Linked DNA regions of Homo sapiens: all the other regions are linked to region 2. The links come from fine-mapping of genetic effects on gene expression. A gene starts in region 2. Each other region holds a variant in brackets. All regions are shown on one strand. Distances are from middle to middle. Region 1 overlaps IPO11 (importin 11). Region 2 holds the start of DIMT1 (DIM1 rRNA methyltransferase and ribosome maturation factor). Region 3 has its middle 59 kb from the start of LRRC70.

The links. PIP is the estimated chance that this variant, and not a neighbour inherited with it, causes the effect. A credible set is the group of variants that fine-mapping cannot tell apart.
Region 1: its variant is the best candidate, but not a certain one, in a credible set for the expression of DIMT1 in whole blood (TOPMed, PIP 0.50).
Region 3: its variant is the best candidate, but not a certain one, in a credible set for the expression of DIMT1 in whole blood (TOPMed, PIP 0.58).

What each region holds. Positions count from the first base shown.
Region 1 is chr5:62,552,048-62,554,813 of GRCh38, reverse strand. All of the region lies in intron 26 of IPO11 (importin 11), which reads right to left. Among named protein-coding and RNA genes, the nearest start is that of IPO11-LRRC70, 25 kb to the left of the region's middle. The variant A/G (reference allele first, on the strand shown) is at 1,609.
Region 2 is chr5:62,402,679-62,405,444 of GRCh38, reverse strand. DIMT1 (DIM1 rRNA methyltransferase and ribosome maturation factor) reads left to right here and starts at 1,540. Exons shown (of 12, transcript NM_014473.4): 1 at 1,540-1,751; 2 at 2,099-2,172. The coding sequence starts at 1,673. RefSeq lists an enhancer at 1,330-1,619.
Region 3 is chr5:62,636,830-62,639,595 of GRCh38, reverse strand. No RefSeq gene overlaps it. Among named protein-coding and RNA genes, the nearest start is that of LRRC70, 59 kb to the right of the region's middle. The variant G/A (reference allele first, on the strand shown) is at 1,391.

The DNA of each region.
Region 1 (2,766 bases), 150 kb before region 2:
AGCCTGGGAAGCAGAGGTTGCAGTGAGCCAAGATTCTGCCACTACACTCCAGCCTGGGCCACAGAGCTAGACTCTGTCTCCCCACCCCCACCCCCCCAAAAAAGTGTGTGTCTGTATAACAAATACAGTATATATACTACAAATACAGTAACCAAAATAGCATGGTACCAGCATAAAAACACACACAGACCAATAGAACAGAGAACCCAGAAATAAATCCATACATTTACAGCCAACTGATTTAAGAAAAAGATAGCATGAATATTTATGGGGAAAAAACAGTTACTTCAACGATGGTGCCAGAAAAACTGGATATCCATATGCAGAAGAACAAAACTAGATCCCTACCTCTCGTGATATACATAAATCAACTCTAGATGAACTAAAGACTTAAAATGTGAGACCCACAACTATAAGATTACTAGAAGAAAACATAAGGAAAACACTCCAGGACTCTGGTCAGGGAAAAGATTTTACTAATAAAACCTCAAAAACATAGGCAACAAAAGGAAAAATAGACAAATGGGATTCTATCAAACTAAAAAGCTTCTATATGACAAAAGCAACCAACAACAGAGTAAAAGAACATCCCACAGGGTGGGAGAAAATAGTTGCAAATTATATATCCAACAAAGGATTACTATCCGAAATACACAAGAAACTCAAACAACAGCTAAATAAAAATAATAATCCATTTTAAAAGTAGAACAATTATCTGAATAAACAGCTCTCAAACGAAGACATACGAATGGCCAACAGGTACATGAAAAAATGGTCAACATCTGCCAGGCGCAGTGACTCACACTTGTAATCCCAGCACTTTGGGAGGCCGAGGCGGGCAGATCACCTGAGGTCAGGAGTTCGAGATGAGTCTGGCCAACATGGTGAAATCCCATAGCCAGCCGGGGTGGTAGGTGCCTGTAATCCCACCTACTTGGGAGGCTGAGGCGAGAGATTCACTTGAACCCGGGAGGCAGAGGTTGCAGTAAGCCGAGATCGTGCCACTGCACTCCAGCCTGGGTGACAGAGTGAGACTCTGTCTCAAAAACAAACAAAAAAAAGGTCAACATCACTAGTCATCAGGGAAATGCAAATCACAACCACAATGAGATATCATCTCACTCCAGTTAGAATGGCTATTATCAAAAAGGCAAAAAAAAAAAAATGCTGGAAAGGATGTAGAGCAAAGGGAACTCAGGCACTACTGGTGGGAATGTAAACTAGTGTAGCCATTATGGAGAACAATATGAGTTTCCTCAAAAAACTACAAATTGAACTATCGTATGATCCAGCAATCTCACTACTGGATATATACATCTCCAAAAGAAAGGAAATCATTGTATTGAAAAGATACCTGCTCCCTCATGTTTATTACAGCACTGTTCAGAATAGCCAAGATATGGAATTAACCTAGGCACCCATCTACAGATGAATGGATACAGAAAATATCACACACACACACACACACACACACACACACACACACACACTCACACGAATACTATTCGACCTCAAAAAAGAATGAATTCCTGTCATTCATGGCAACATGAGTGAGGCTAGAGAGCCTTATGTTAAGTGAAATAAGCCAGGAACAGAAAGAGAAATACT[A/G]CGTGTTCTCACTTACATGTAGAAGCTAAAAAAGATGACCTCAAAGAAGCAGAAAGTAGAATAGTGGTTACTAGACTGGGAAAGGTAAGGGGAAAGTGAGGAGAGAGAGAGATATTGGTTAAAAGATAAAAAAATCACACATAGATAGGAGGAATAAGTTCTAGTGTTCTATATAGCACTGCAGGATAACTACAGTTAACAGTAATATATAGTTTCAAATAGTTAGAAGGAGGCTGTTGTATGTTCCCAATACAGAGAAATAGTAAGTGTTTGGGGTGACAGATATGTCAATTACCCTGATTTGATCACTATATGCTGTATGTATAGAAATAGCACTATGTACTCCATAAATGTCTACAACTATTATGTGTCAATTAAAAAAATTTTTAAGAGATTAATCCATGACTTTGGTGATTAAATATTTACTCATTGTGATCTCAGACTGAATCTTCATGAACTAATGCAAGGGAAGAAGGACATATATTTCAAGAAATGTTGGAAACATGACCAGGCCCCTCATGGAAACAAGAAAGTAAATACATAGTAATGGCATCCTGATGTTTCCTCTGGGTAATTTTAATTTCCTCTCTTATGTTCTTAAATATTTTTAGTTATCCTGTAATCTCAGCACTTTGGGAGGCCAAGGTGGGAAGATCACTTGAGCTCAGAAATTTGAGAACAGCTTGGAAAATATAGCAAGACCTCATCTCTACTTTAAAAAAAAAAAAAAAACTAAAAAATATATATTACCCCATTTCAATTAAAATTAATAAGCTAATAAAAATATACCCTATTTATTTATCAAAACAAGGGTTGGGATCTCTAATTAGATTAGTCTAATTCTAGAAAAGCTACATATATTTTAAAATTTGTACTTCCTTATTCTGGATTTCCTTGTATTAGAAATAGTTATATTTGTTTTCAGCCATAAACCAAAAGATTTTAAAAAATTGTCTCCATTGTAGATATATTCGTCAAGTATACCATATCTTCAACATCTTATAAATCTTAACAGATTAATGACTTACAGCATAATCTTATTTGAATATCTCATATATAGTCTTTTTTCTTTTTTCTTTTTTGAGACAGAGTTTCTCTCTGTCGCCCAGGCTGGAGTGCAGTGGCATGATCTCCACTCACTGCAAGCTCTGCCTCCCG
Region 2 (2,766 bases):
TGCTGGGATTACAGGCATGAGCCACCTCTCCAGGCCATGTCCATCCTATTAACATTTGGAAGTGCCTAGCACAGTGTACTCTTTAGAATTGTGGAATAACAATGATTGATGAAATGAAACATATACTTGAAGATGCTACTAGGGTATACGAGATTTTTTTTCTGACTTAGAACTACATCAAAGAAAGAAGGGCCTAAGACCAAGGTTTGGGAATGTACACAATGAATTGCTCAAAAGAGAGTTAGCTTTAGTAATGACAGGAAGAAGCTATTTCTTCAACCAAACAGAATACACACAGAAAAATTTAAAAGAGCCATTACACTGGCTGGCAAAACAGATGTGGATATTATGGCCCTGGTACACACGGAGTTTATAGTCAGGTACACTGTCCTGTCACAACGACCAATACGTTATCGTATTTACAGCGTTTTGGAGTTTCTGTCCATCTCTGTCAATATAATACACTTTGAAATAAGTTTCTTACTTAGAATCCCTAGCAGTGTTTGATACACAGTTGGAGCTCAATAAATGTTTACGGAGTGAATGATGAGGCACAAAAGGAATTTGTTGAATTATTTGTTAAATGAATCAAATAATTTTCTAGGATTCACGGGCTGTCTTCTGCACGATAAGCTTCATTCTGTGGGTCTGAGTTTCTCCTGGTTCTCAATTCTGTCTTTTTGTGGATTATCTACTTTGTAGCTGGAGCTTTGTATCTGTTTAAGATAATTATTCTTCTATTCCTTTTTTTTTTTTTTTTTTTTTGAGACGGAGTCTCGCTCTGCCGCCCAGGCTGGAGTGCAGTAGCGCGATCTCGGCTCACTGCAACCTCCGCCTCCTGGGTTCACGCCACTCTCCTGCCTCAGTCTCCCAAGTAGCTGAGACTACAGGCGCCCACCACCACGCCCGGCTAATTTTTTGTATTTTTAGTAGAGACGGGGTTTCCCCGTGTTAGCCAGGATGGTCTCGATCTCCTGACCTTGTGATCCGCCCGCCTCTGCCTCCCAGAGTGCTGGGATTACAGGCGTGAGCCTCCGCGCCCGGCTCTTCTATTCTTAGTAGAAGCAACCAGTAGCCCTAGCGAAACCAGACGTTAATTCCATTCTCGCAGTTCTTTTCCCCAGGGCAAGCAGCAAAAAATGCATTCCCACAAAAGAGCAAGCTCATCCCCAAATCCCGGGTTTCCCACCCCCACAAGCTTCAGGAAAACAGGAGCGAGGCACGTGAATACTTCTTTGGACCTCAGCGATCCCAGAACCTAGGCTACTAAAACATCCATAGGCTTAACCTCATCATATAACTTAAACAGCCTTCGCAACACCGAGAGCACCACACCAACACCTTCTTATCCAGCCCTGGTTGGGACAAGGGCTCCAACTCCAGACTGCAGTCCTCGGTAGCGCGGTGTCTTCTGGGATCTGTAGGCTCCCGCGGTTCGGCCTTCCTCCCTCTGTGACTCCAATTCCCGGCAGTCAGTGGGCTCCAAGGTCCGCCCTTTTTCTGGAGGAGGAGCTCAGAGCGTACGGGAGGGGGCGGACCCTTGCCCCTCCGGCGCTTGGGCCAGAGTGGTGCGGGCGGCGCGTGGCGGCGATCCCCACGTGGTGGCTTTCTCACGCTAGCCCTCTTTGGTCCTCCTTGACGTCCCGGGCCTGTGGGCCCGCTTTCTGCCGAGATGCCGAAGGTCAAGTCGGGGGCCATCGGCCGCCGCCGCGGGCGGCAGGAGCAGCGCCGGGAGCTGAAGAGCGCTGGAGGTGCGGATCCCCGCGAGGAAGCTGGGGTCGGTCGGGTCAGGTCTTCCGGCAGGACCTAGCCTGGGGTGCGGACCAAGACCTGATCGGCAGAGGCCGGTCAGGACGCGCTCCCGTGAGCGCGGAAGGCAGGGGTGGGTCCCCGACTCGGCCGCAGGCCCTGCGCGTCGCCGCTGACTTCCTTTCCAGCTGGAGGATGAACTTATAAAGAGTTTGTCAGTCCTGGCGTGACGTTTCGTGGCCCTGGTTGGCGCAGAAATCTTCCCCATACCCATGCAGCTTTCTTCTCTGGTACTGCCTAATATCTAATCTCAGTAGGAAAATTAATGCTGTTTCGTATTTTCTTACAGGACTCATGTTCAACACGGGGATTGGGCAGCACATTTTGAAAAATCCTCTCATTATTAACAGCATTATCGATAAGGTGGGTGTGGAAGAGGAAAGGGAGAGAGTTGTTGGTTTATTAATTTTATTCCTATGAATACATAAGCGCAGAAAGTCTGCCTGCCGTAAATTAGATGCTCTGTAAATATTTGTTGAATGAATCAAATAATTGTCTAGGATTCTTGGGCTGTCTTCTGCATGATAAGCTTCATTTTGTGGGTCTGAGTTTCTCCTGGTTCCCAATTCTGTGTCTTTTTGTGGATTATCTACTTTATAGCTGGACCTTTGTATTTGTTCAAGATAATTATTCTTCTATTTCTAATCACCTTTTTGATCACTTAGTTTTTATGTACTCCATCTATTTATGTCTAAACTACACATTAGAAAGTTTGTTCCCCAGAAAAACATATAGTACTACATATAAATTATTTGGTGTATGCTAGTACCACATATAAATTGCTTGGAGTATTACTGCTTTCTGAGTTATTGATGTTCTCTTATGGTTATGGATGATTGGGTGTTAGGAAGTGAAATACACACGGTGCAGATTACACTTATGGTTAAAAGCAAGGAAAGCATCCTGGAGCTGTAGAAAGAGCATTACATAGTTAAAGGATCTTGTCAGGCTTCGTGT
Region 3 (2,766 bases), 230 kb before region 2:
TCCTACTGAGATTACTTATTAAATTCATTTATTTCCATTCTGACCATTACCACCTGGATTTATAATAGCTTCTAAACTGACCAGCCTGTGGTCGTTCCCCACCTCCTCCCACCCCACCATCCCCACCTGTTGCAGTCAAGATTCTGGCTTTAAATTGCAAATCTGTTTTTATTGCCTTTCCATACTTCCTCTTCTTCCTGTGGTTCTTAGAGTCCTTTCTGCATGTTGTTCCCTCTGACTAGAAGACTCAGTGTCTTAGCCCAATATCCAGTCACCTCCTCATCCTTCACACCTCCCCACCCCATCATCACCTCCACAGACCTGCCTACCCTTCTCTAACTCCCTGAGGTCAGACCTGCCTTGCAGGTGCTCTTAGTGCTCCAGGTCACCATTCCACTTTTACACTTACTTGCAGGCTTATTTGATGGATGTCTCCTCTGGTGGACAGAAAGCTCAAAACAAAATAGTCTTCTCTGCTTTTGTTTATCATTGTATCCTCAGCACCCAGCATAGTGCCTGTTATATGTAGGCACTCAATAACATTTATTCAATGAAAGTTGAATGAATGACTTAATTTTCACAACTACCTCTGGAAAGAAAGCTATTATCCTCATTTTACAAATGAGAAGATTGAAGCAACTCAAGAAAATTAAGTTACTTAAGTTGTAGATACTTAAAGACTCACCCCAGTATCTTAGTCTTTTCAGGCTACTATATAAGAAAATACCATAGACTGGATGACTTTTATAAAAAAAAACAACAGAAATTTATGTCTCACAGTTCTGGAGGCTGGGAAGTCCAAGGTCAAGGCACTTACAGGTTCAGTGTCTGGTGAGGGCTCACATCCTCACACATGGCGCTTTCTTGTTCTGTTCTCACATGGTGGGAGGGGTGGGGGGGGTTTCCCTAAGGCCTCTTTTAGAATGACACTGATCCCATTCATGAGGGCTCCACCCCAATGACCTAATCACCTCCCACCCTCATCACCTTGGAAGTAAGGATTTCAACATATGAGTTTTCAGGGGGATACAAACATTCTGACCACAGCACCCAGGTTGCTGATTATAAAGCTCGCATTCTTTCCTCTGTACTATTTCTCATAATATGATACAAATGTCACAAAATATGCTGTGCTCAACAAAAGGTGTGGTCAGAGGAAGCATCCCACTGGTGTCAAATGCAGGTGAGAAGAATATGAGTCCTATGTGATGCTGGGCTCTTAAAACACCTCTTAGGAGGCCGTCCATGGTGGCTTGCGCCTGTAATCCCAGCACTTTGGGAGGCTGAGGTGGGCGGATCACCAGGTCAGGAGATTGAGACCATCCTGGCTAACACAGTGAAACCCTGTCTCTACTAAAAATACAAAAAAAAAAAAAAAAATTAGCCGGGC[G/A]TGGTGGCAGGCGCCTGTAGTCCCAGCTACTCAGGAGGCTGAGGCAGGAGAATGATGTGAACCCAGGAGGCGGAGCTTGTGGTGAGCCAAGATCGTGCCACTGCACTCCAGCCTGGGCTGACAGAGCGAGACTCTGTCTCAAACAAACAAACAAAAACCACACCTCTTAGGGCACCTCTCTCAAGAAGACCTTTACCACCCAAAACACAGTTGGCATATATCAAAAGCCTTAGAATATTAATATCGCCTTAATATTGATAACTCTTTACCTAGCAATTGTATCCAGTAGCTTTAAGAAAAATTTAAGAGCTGTACACAAGAATTTATGCACAAGGATGGTCATTGTGGTATTATTGTCAAACAGGTAACAGTTAAATAATGACACTCCCTTATAACACATTTTTATGCAGATGCTCCAAACATATTTCTAAAGAATATTTAACTGACATGGGAAAATGGTTAAATATTACAGTCAGGTAAGAAAAGGACAACAGGCTAATAAAAGAACACTAGTAATGATTCCAATTTTAAAGGTATGTGTTTCTAGCTATACACAGTCATGAAAAATAAAATACGGCAAAATGTTAACTGGTTATCTCTTAGTAAGATTGCAGGCAAATTACATTTCCTTCAATACACCTTATCGTATTTTCAACTGTTTACCATCAGCACGTGTTGCTTTTATAATGAGAAAAAAATGTTACTAAAAAGCAATTGACCATGTAATTTGCTCAGAAAGTTTTTCTTGCTATGTTTTTCAACTGCTCTTTCTAAATTATTTCAGAAACAAAAAGTCTTTGGAGGAATTTTCCCTCTGCCGATGCTCGGGTTAGGTTATTTATATAATGGAAGGCCACATGGAGACGTTGGACTTCCTGTATGAGTTTCATCATATAAAAAGCTTGGAAGTTGTCACTCTTTGCTTTTATAAGAAAAAGCTGGACAAACTGAAAACCAATGACTTGGACTCATTACAGGGCAAACTGTCTCCAGAGTTTGCAAACTGTCTCCAGCAAATCCAGAGACAAAGCTGAGATCAACTTACCTGGAGCAGAAGTGTTGGATCTCTAAACTGGTAGGCTCACTTCTGGGAACAGTCTTGGGGAAAGCCTCTTGGTTTTGTGAACATTACCTCTAGGAATCCCACCAGTTTCTCATTGTGAAGATCAGAGAAAGATGCCATCATAGTTCTTGCAGGAGGGGAAGAGTGATTCTTATGAAATACGTCCAGAGCTTTCTTCATAATAAAAATGATAAAAGAAAATAAACTCTTCGGGGGAAAGACTTAACCAGGCTTTAGGCTTGTTCTAGAGCCATGGGGAAAGGCACTCCTCTCGCTCCAGCCATTTCTCCTCTTCCTGTCTCACCTGAGGGGG